Homo sapiens: one gene and its partner. The protein of the gene in region 2 purifies or fractionates together with the protein of the main gene of each other region. This does not show direct contact. Each region holds a gene or a part of one and is shown on either strand. Other genes may lie near its edges.

Region 1 (4,201 bases), on a different chromosome or scaffold from region 2:
AGTTTTAATATATTTTTAATGTTTTAACTAACTTGCCAGCCAAATTATTCTTTTAGCACCACCCCCAACTCCAAAGACCCCCTTCCAAACAGGTGCTGACTTGAGACCGTGACTATAGAGCACTTGTCTCTAAAATGTACAAAATGAAGAGAAATCTCAAGATGTCCCACTGAGATGAAGAAAGAAAGAAGAAAATATGTATGTTTGTATACATGTATACATGTATATATATGTATACACAAAATTAGAAAAGTTAGGGTCTACTGTATAAATTAAATAAGCGTTGACAGTGCTTTTGATTTTAATCTGTATGTGGTACTTTGCCTGCTTAACACCCTTATGTGGATTTCCTGACGGACTTGACATTCCTGTCAGGAAAGCATTGCGTACTTGCTGATTAAAAAGCATCTAAGGGCCGGGAGCGGTGGCTCACGCCTGCAATCCCAGCACGAGGCAGGAGGATCACCTGACGTCAGGAGTTCAAGACCACCCTGGTCAACATGGCGAAACCCCGTCTTTACTAAAAATAGAAAAATTAGCCGGGCATGGTGGCGCGCGCCTGTAATCCCAGCTACTCGGGAGGCTGAGTCAGGAGAATCGCTTGAACCCGGGAGGTGGAGGTTACAGTGAGCCGAGATCCGTCTCAAAAATAAAAAATAAATAATGAAAAAAATTAAAAATTTAAAAATTAAAAAACATTTAAAAAAGCATCTAACTTAGATGGGTAATGGGTCAAAAGAAAGGCAGACTGCCACATGCAGCGCCTCATTTGGATGTGTCTGGAGTCTTGGAAGCTTGACTACCCTACGTTCTCCTACAAATGGACCTTGAGAGCTTGTTTGGAGGTTCTAGCAGGGGAGCGCAGCTACTCGTATACCCTTGACCGAAGACCGGTCCTCCTCTATCGGGGATGGTCGTCCTCTTCGACCGAGCGCGCAGCTTCGGGAGGGACGCACATGGAGCGGTGAGGGAGGAAGGGGACACCCGCCTAGCCAGCCAGATCAGCCGAATCAACCCTGGCGATCAATGGGGTGACAGATGTCGCAGCCAGATCGCCCTCACATCCGAGGTACCCAAGCGGCGCACAAGCTATATAAACCTGAAGGAAGTCTCAACTTTACACTTAGGTCAAGTTGCTTATCGTACTAGAGCTTCAGCAGGAAATTTAACTAAAATCTAATTTAACCAGCATAGCAAATATCATTTATTCCCAAAATGCTAAAGTTTGAGATAAACGGACTTGATTTCCGGCTGTTTTGACACTATCCAGAATGCCTTGCAGATGGGTGGGGCATGCTAAATACTGCAGTCTCCATTGGTGAGGTCGTCCCGGAGCCTCGCCCAGCTCCCGCGCGCTAGAGCCGCCTGCTGGTCTCACCCAGCCGGGACCGCTGACCTGGCGCTTTGTGCGGCTCCAGGCCTCCGAGTGGACTCCAGGTCTGTCTCCCTCCTGCGGTCGCCCCCTTCCTCGCCCTTTCTCTCTTCTTTTTTTTCCCTCCCCTTTACTCTCTGAGTCTCACTCTCGCATTCTTCCCTCACTCCCCCAGTTCAGTCCTTCTCTTGTCTTTTCTTCCTCTTGTCCTTTGTCCTCCTGCTCCATCCAGTCTGGGCAGAGGTGGGCCCCTTGGCTGGAGCTGGGGTCCTTCTTGGCTCAGTGTGCGTATTTTTTTTTAAACCCCTTCTGCGGAGTCTGAATGCATTGGTGGAAGGTGGGCTCGGATCGTCCCCGGGCCTGGCTGGGCTGCCGCTACGCCCCTGCATGGGCTGAGCGGGGAAGACGAGCATGGGAGAGTGCGATCTCAGATGGCCAAGCCCTGGCCCCCGGCTCGTTTTACAAGGCCGGGGGCTCATCTCCCTGTAGGGGTGGTGGACACGCGGGACCCGGGGGGCGCAGCCACCGCATGCGTGACGGTGGACGCACATTTTGCAGACAGTAGTAGTACTCGGCCTGTTCACCTTCCAGTTGCCGTGATAATAAAATATGATGATGTATGTAAAAGCATGAATACTTGAAGAGCTTCCAGTGGCTGTGCGATTTTCCTTCGCTACCCTCTTCAACGCCTGCCACCCCCTATCCCCCAGCTGAATTTGGAAAATCTGAGATTCTCGAGGTCAAAATATATAATATTCTGAATTTGTGAAATCCCGTACTGCTAGCACATATGTTTTTACAACAAATGGCCCCAGCTTCCCAAGATCCAGGATAAGAAGTCATAAATAGAAATCATATAAAAGCCAAGGTTTTTTTCTCCATGTTTTAAAATGGTGGTTTTTTTTTCTTGAGTGAGGGAAAATGCAGCAACAAAAATAAAGAACAGTTTCCCGTGCCAAAATCCTGAATATTCATTTCGCCCCTGAGCACTGGGTTGAAGACGCGAAATTGGGACTGTTGGTCTGCGACGAGCTGCTGCATTTGTATTTCAGAAAGCCTGAAAAGCTATCATGGCAGCAAGGCCCAAGCTCCACTATCCCAACGGAAGAGGCCGGATGGAGTCCGTGAGATGGGTTTTAGCTGCCGCCGGAGTCGAGGTACCTTATATGCTGTTTCTTCACGGATTTGTCATACAGCTTTTGAGACCTTTGAAAGAAAAATACGTTTTGAAGCACCGTTCAGTTCTAGTTCTCGTCCACCAAAATCACAGGCACGCTTCACTGAGTCAGATACCATCCCTGAAGGGATTTTTCTTTATAATTAGAACGTAGTTGATGGAATTCTATTTTCCTTTTGACTTTTACTTAATTATTGGCTTCTGATCTAGCACCAGTGAATATTTATTAATAAGAAGAAAGGAAATTTACCTGAAAATTGTCAGTTACTCTGAGCTCTTATTAATTATGCATTCTCAGGGTAAATTTCTTGTTTTCTTCAGTGGCTTCAAACTGGCAGCCTTGGTATCTTGCTTACATATGTGTGTGTGTCTGTTTTTGTTTTCGTTCTGTTCTTTTAGCTTCTTAGTATGGAAATTTTCAAATACCAATAAATGTAGAGAGAACATTGCCATGAATTCTATGTACTCATCACCCGACTTCAGCAATCATCAGCTCTATGCTAATCTTGTTTCATCTATCACCTCCCTTCCCTTGTTTTGTGGGAGTATTTTAAAGCAAAATCCAAACATCATAACATTTCATCTGGGAGTTCCTCAACATTTTCCTCTAACAGATGAGGATTTTAAAATGTAACAATATTATTATCACATCCAACAAAATTAGCAATTCTTTGTCATCTAACCTTCAGTCTGATTGTCTCAAACAGGCATTTTGTTTGTTTGTTTGTTTTTATAGTTTGTTTTAGTTTGGATCTAGACATTGGTCTACGCATTACATTTAAAATGGTTATGTTTCTTTCGGTATTTTAAAAACCTGTAAGTTTCCTCTTCATTTTTTACAAATTTATATTTGGGAATATTTTCAGATTTATAGAAAAGTTGTAAAATAATACAGTCCCTCATTCAGTCTCCCTTAATGATAACATCTTACATCACCATGTCATATTACGAAATTAACATTGGTGCATGACTAACTAAACTACAGACTTTATTCAGATTTCACTGTTTTTTCTACTAATGTTCTGGGTTTTTTTTTGACGGAGGCTGGCTCTGTAGCCCAGGCTGGAGTGCAGTGGTGTGATCTCGGCTCACTGCAACCTCCGCCTCCCAGGATCAAGCAATTCCCCTGCCTCAGCCTACCTAGTAGCTGGGACTACAGGTGCACACCACCACGACCAGCTAATTTTTGTATTTTTTTAGTAGAGACAGGGTTTCTCCATGTTGGCCAGGCTGATCTTGAGCTCCAGACCTCAAGTGATGCACCCACCTGGGCCTCTCAAAGTACTGGGATTACAGGTGTGAACCACCACGCCCGGCCCTTTGCTAATGTCCTTTTACTATCCCGCGATCCAACATTATATTTATTCATCCTGTTTCCATAGTTGCCAACAATCCATGACAATTTCCCAGTCGTTTCCTTCATTTTACCATCTTGACGGTTTTGAAAAGCACTGGTCAGATATTTTTGTAGAATCCTCTACAAATTGGGTTTATCTTGTTTTTTTCATGATTAGACTGAGGTTATGGGTTTGGGGAAAGAATGCCACAGAGGTGAAGTATGTTCACGTCATCATATTAGGGGTTACGTATCAACATGAGTTGTCACTGGCAGTATTAACCTGGATCACATGGTTAAGGTAGTCTCTGCCAGG
Region 2 (3,500 bases):
AGGAGGAAGGCGGGGATCTCGAACCACAGGCACCGTGAGTTCTCTCCACAGCTTCCTCTACCCATTCTCACCCAGCGCAAGCCAGACTCCTCATCTCCAATTTCACTGTTTTAGCAGAATAGCTATGGAAAGAATTACAACTGTGGAAATAATAGTAAGAAGAAAAACAAGCTCTCCCATCTGTGGGACAAGGGGCGGTCCAGTGGAACAAGCATGGATCTTGGTATCAAAGGGCCCAGGTTTTGCCCAGGTTCGTCTGCCCCAAACCTGCAGTGGTGATGCAGCTCATCCAGGTGGAGGCCTAGGGCTTGGTCACGGCTGCAGGGTGACCCCCAGGGACTCTCGACCATCTCTTGGGCCACACTCCCTCTCTCTCCATCCCAGCCTGTTTGCTGTTCCTCACATGCCCAGCTTGGCCCCAGTCCTTCTGAGGCCTTTGCCACAGTGTCCCCTTGCCCTAATTGTGCTTCCCCAACTGTGTGACAGCTCACTTTTGTCTTGCCTCTGCTCGAATGAAGGTTATTAAACTTGATCCTGTCCATCCTACATTACGGAGCACGCCCTCCTCCTCTTTTCAGCATGGGAGATATCGTACATTTACATTTCATGATTTACTATGTATCATTATGGTGATCATTTTGGGATGATCACCTCACTTCCCACCTCCAAGAGCCCATGGGCATGTGGTTGATGTCATTTTGTACGCAGAGAACAACACTTAAGTTTGCTGCTGTACCTTGAGTACCTAGACGAGTACCTGGCACAGGGCAGATACACAATCCATCAATGACAGGGACTGTCCTGCTGTCGACCCCAGGGGGTGAGCTTCAGTGCGCTCACCGGCAAAGGAACAAGGGCCGGTGCTCTGCCTACCTGGCCAGGGTTTAGTGGCAGTCAATGAGAGCTCTACAGAGGATGGGCTTTGTAAATGACAGCATCAAGGAATCTCCCATAGTGATAAGGGGGTGGGGATATCAGGCATCTGTCAGTAAAGGTGGGAGGGAGATATGACTACAGGGACTTGAATTTCTCCTCGCTCAGTCTTGTCAGGGTGCAGAGCTCACCACCTCAAGCTTTTCGTGCAAGGGACTCTCGACCATCTCCCTCTCCCTCCTTCCCAGCCTGTTTGCTGTTCCTCACATGCCCTGCTTGACCCCAGTCCTTCTGAGGCCTTTGCCACAGTGTCTCCCCACCCGGATTGTGCTTCCCCGACTGTGTCAGCTCACTTTTGTCGCATCTCTGACCAAATCTGAGGCCCTTTTCCATTCCTATCCCCTTCCAGGTCACAATTTTAGATTCTGACTTTCTCCTTCACCTCCTCCTGCCCCCAGGTGTCCCCACATTCAAAGCATCCTAACCCCTCTTTCTGGAAGCCTCAGAAAATGGTTAAGGCCTCCACTCTGTCCACTAACCCTGGCCTTCCCCCAAGCTGGAGTTCACCTTTCACCTTTCCTACCTCAAGATGAGCACCCAGAATCTAGGCCCGATACTTCGTGAATTTGAGAATAAAATGAAAAGACCATCCCACATGCTGCCAAATACCAGCTGCCCCTAAGCTCATGTATCCAACACTACGTGCTCCTTTCCTTCAGAGGCTGAAATTTTAGTGGGGAGGGCCCAGGTCTGCTTGTCACATTTGGTTCGGCACATGCTGCAGAAGGACAACCACAAAAACCAGCCCAGGTCAGAGAGCAAAGCAGTGTCCTGAGGCCACAGAGACCTGGGTTCAAGATCAGGCCTTGAAAATTACAAAGTACCAAACGGCAGATGTCATCTATGTACCTAATGCATGCGAGGCACTTACACATATAGTCTCTTTAAAGTTTAGGAGATCCATTTCCAAGGCAGGTACTATGATTCCTTTTCTCATGGACAATGAGCCTAATGCTCAGAGAGTCTGAGTAGGCTCCTACGGCTGGCAAGGCAAGGCAGTGGCTGGGTGCTCACCTTCCTTAGGCCTGACCCCACCTACTCAAGCAGCTGGCGGAGGAAACCACACCAGGGTTGCTCAGTTCACTAGGCTCCATCAAGGTGCGCTGTACGTGTGCTTCCCCAGTGTCAGGGGACAGCCAATCCTTGGGGCAGGAGCCTGCTCTTTCTCTAGGGGAGAATCTGCATCCCAGGCAGGAGAGGGGCAAAAGAAAAGAGAAGCCGGGAGAAAGGATGGGGAGGAAATGCAGGCTTGCTGGCCTTGGTAGGTCATTCTTTTGACCTTGCTTCCTTCTCAGAACACTGTGAACTTGTTTACAAAACTTCTAGGCAAGGGTCAAGGCAACTGGTCTGGATTACGTCTTTCAACGAGGACCTTTCAGGATGCATACCACGCGAGAGGAATGGAGGGAGGTCTGACAGGCGGGGGTGAGTGTCAGCTCTGGTCACTGTGGACTTGCTGTGTAACTGCAGGGAGGCTGCTGAAGGTCTTTGGGCCTTGGCTCCCTCCTCTGGGAAAGAGGGCTGCCAGTCACGGTCTCAAGAATGTGTATGGGGAGTCCCTGGTGGGGCTCTAGCACATGTCAGAAATGGGAGCAGAAATGAATGAACAGTCTTGCAATGGCTCATGTCCCCTCACAGTCTGGGCATTATGAATTTTCCAGGCAAAGGAGCTGATTTCCATAAAAACCAACAGAAGCATCTGTGGACCTAGTAATTCAAATGTCCCACTAGTCATGCAGGCATGTAAAAGACATTTACCGAGCATTTACTCTGCTTGAGTTCCCCAACTAGGCACTGGGGAGACAGACATGACAAGTAACACCCACCTTCTCAGTTTTTGTGAGAATTAACTGTAATAATGCAAGTACGGTATCTACCGAGGAGCCTAGCATGGTAGATCTGCAAAAAACTGGGGGCAACAATAATGATCGATCTTATTATTAAGAATGAACCTTTGCACCTACCCTCAACCCAAAAGCCTAGTGGAGAAGATAGGTGAGGAAGCACGAAATGCAAGTCCCCAGCATACGGCCGTAGATGTGAATTCTCGTTCCTTCCTGGGTCTTTTGCACTTGTTCCTCCCGCGGGCTGGAATGCTTTTCCCCAGCTCTGTGCCCAGCCCAGTCCCCTCACTTTATTCAGTTCTGACTACAGTAATCAGGATATGCTTCCTGGAAGTGGTGGTACCAGAAACAGTCCGAGAAGAATAAACATTTCCCAAAGAGACAAGGGGTGGAGGGTGGTGGCAATTTTTGTGCCTAAAACGCTGTAAATGACAATGGTTATCTCCAGTAACTTCTCAGGGGAAGAGACATCTCCCTGCCAGCCACCAGCCTGGGGCAGGATTGGTTTGGCCAGAGAAGCTGGATCCCTGCAGGCCTTTTGCAAACTGTGCCTGGCATAGGAAGAGAACAGCCTGCTTTGCTCTCAACCTGCTGAATGAACAAGGCTTACACGTGGGCAGCCTGTGTACTCAATGACGGCCCAGCCCAGTGCCAGGCCTTGTGTCACCGGATCCCGGTGCCAGGTGAGGAAGCCAAAAGCAGCAGGGTGTGGTTCCTCTCCCA

The links.
Region 1: the proteins of TRIB2 (region 2) and GSTA4 purify together in Homo sapiens (affinity purification with mass spectrometry; 2 studies listed by BioGRID and IntAct, with this or other methods). This does not show direct contact.

Annotation. Positions count from the first base shown.
Region 1 is NC_000006.12:52,992,485-52,996,685, reverse strand, and holds the start of GSTA4 (glutathione S-transferase A4), read left to right. Parts: upstream 1-1,401; 5' UTR 1,402-1,437; intron 1,438-2,284; exon of another isoform or gene 2,285-2,424; 5' UTR 2,425-2,442; coding exon 2,443-2,529; intron 2,530-4,201. UniProt on the Homo sapiens protein: Conjugation of reduced glutathione to a wide number of exogenous and endogenous hydrophobic electrophiles. This isozyme has a high catalytic efficiency with 4-hydroxyalkenals such as 4-hydroxynonenal (4-HNE).
Region 2 is NC_000002.12:12,733,936-12,737,435, reverse strand, and holds part of TRIB2 (tribbles homolog 2), read right to left. Parts: intron 70-3,500; exon of another isoform or gene 1-69.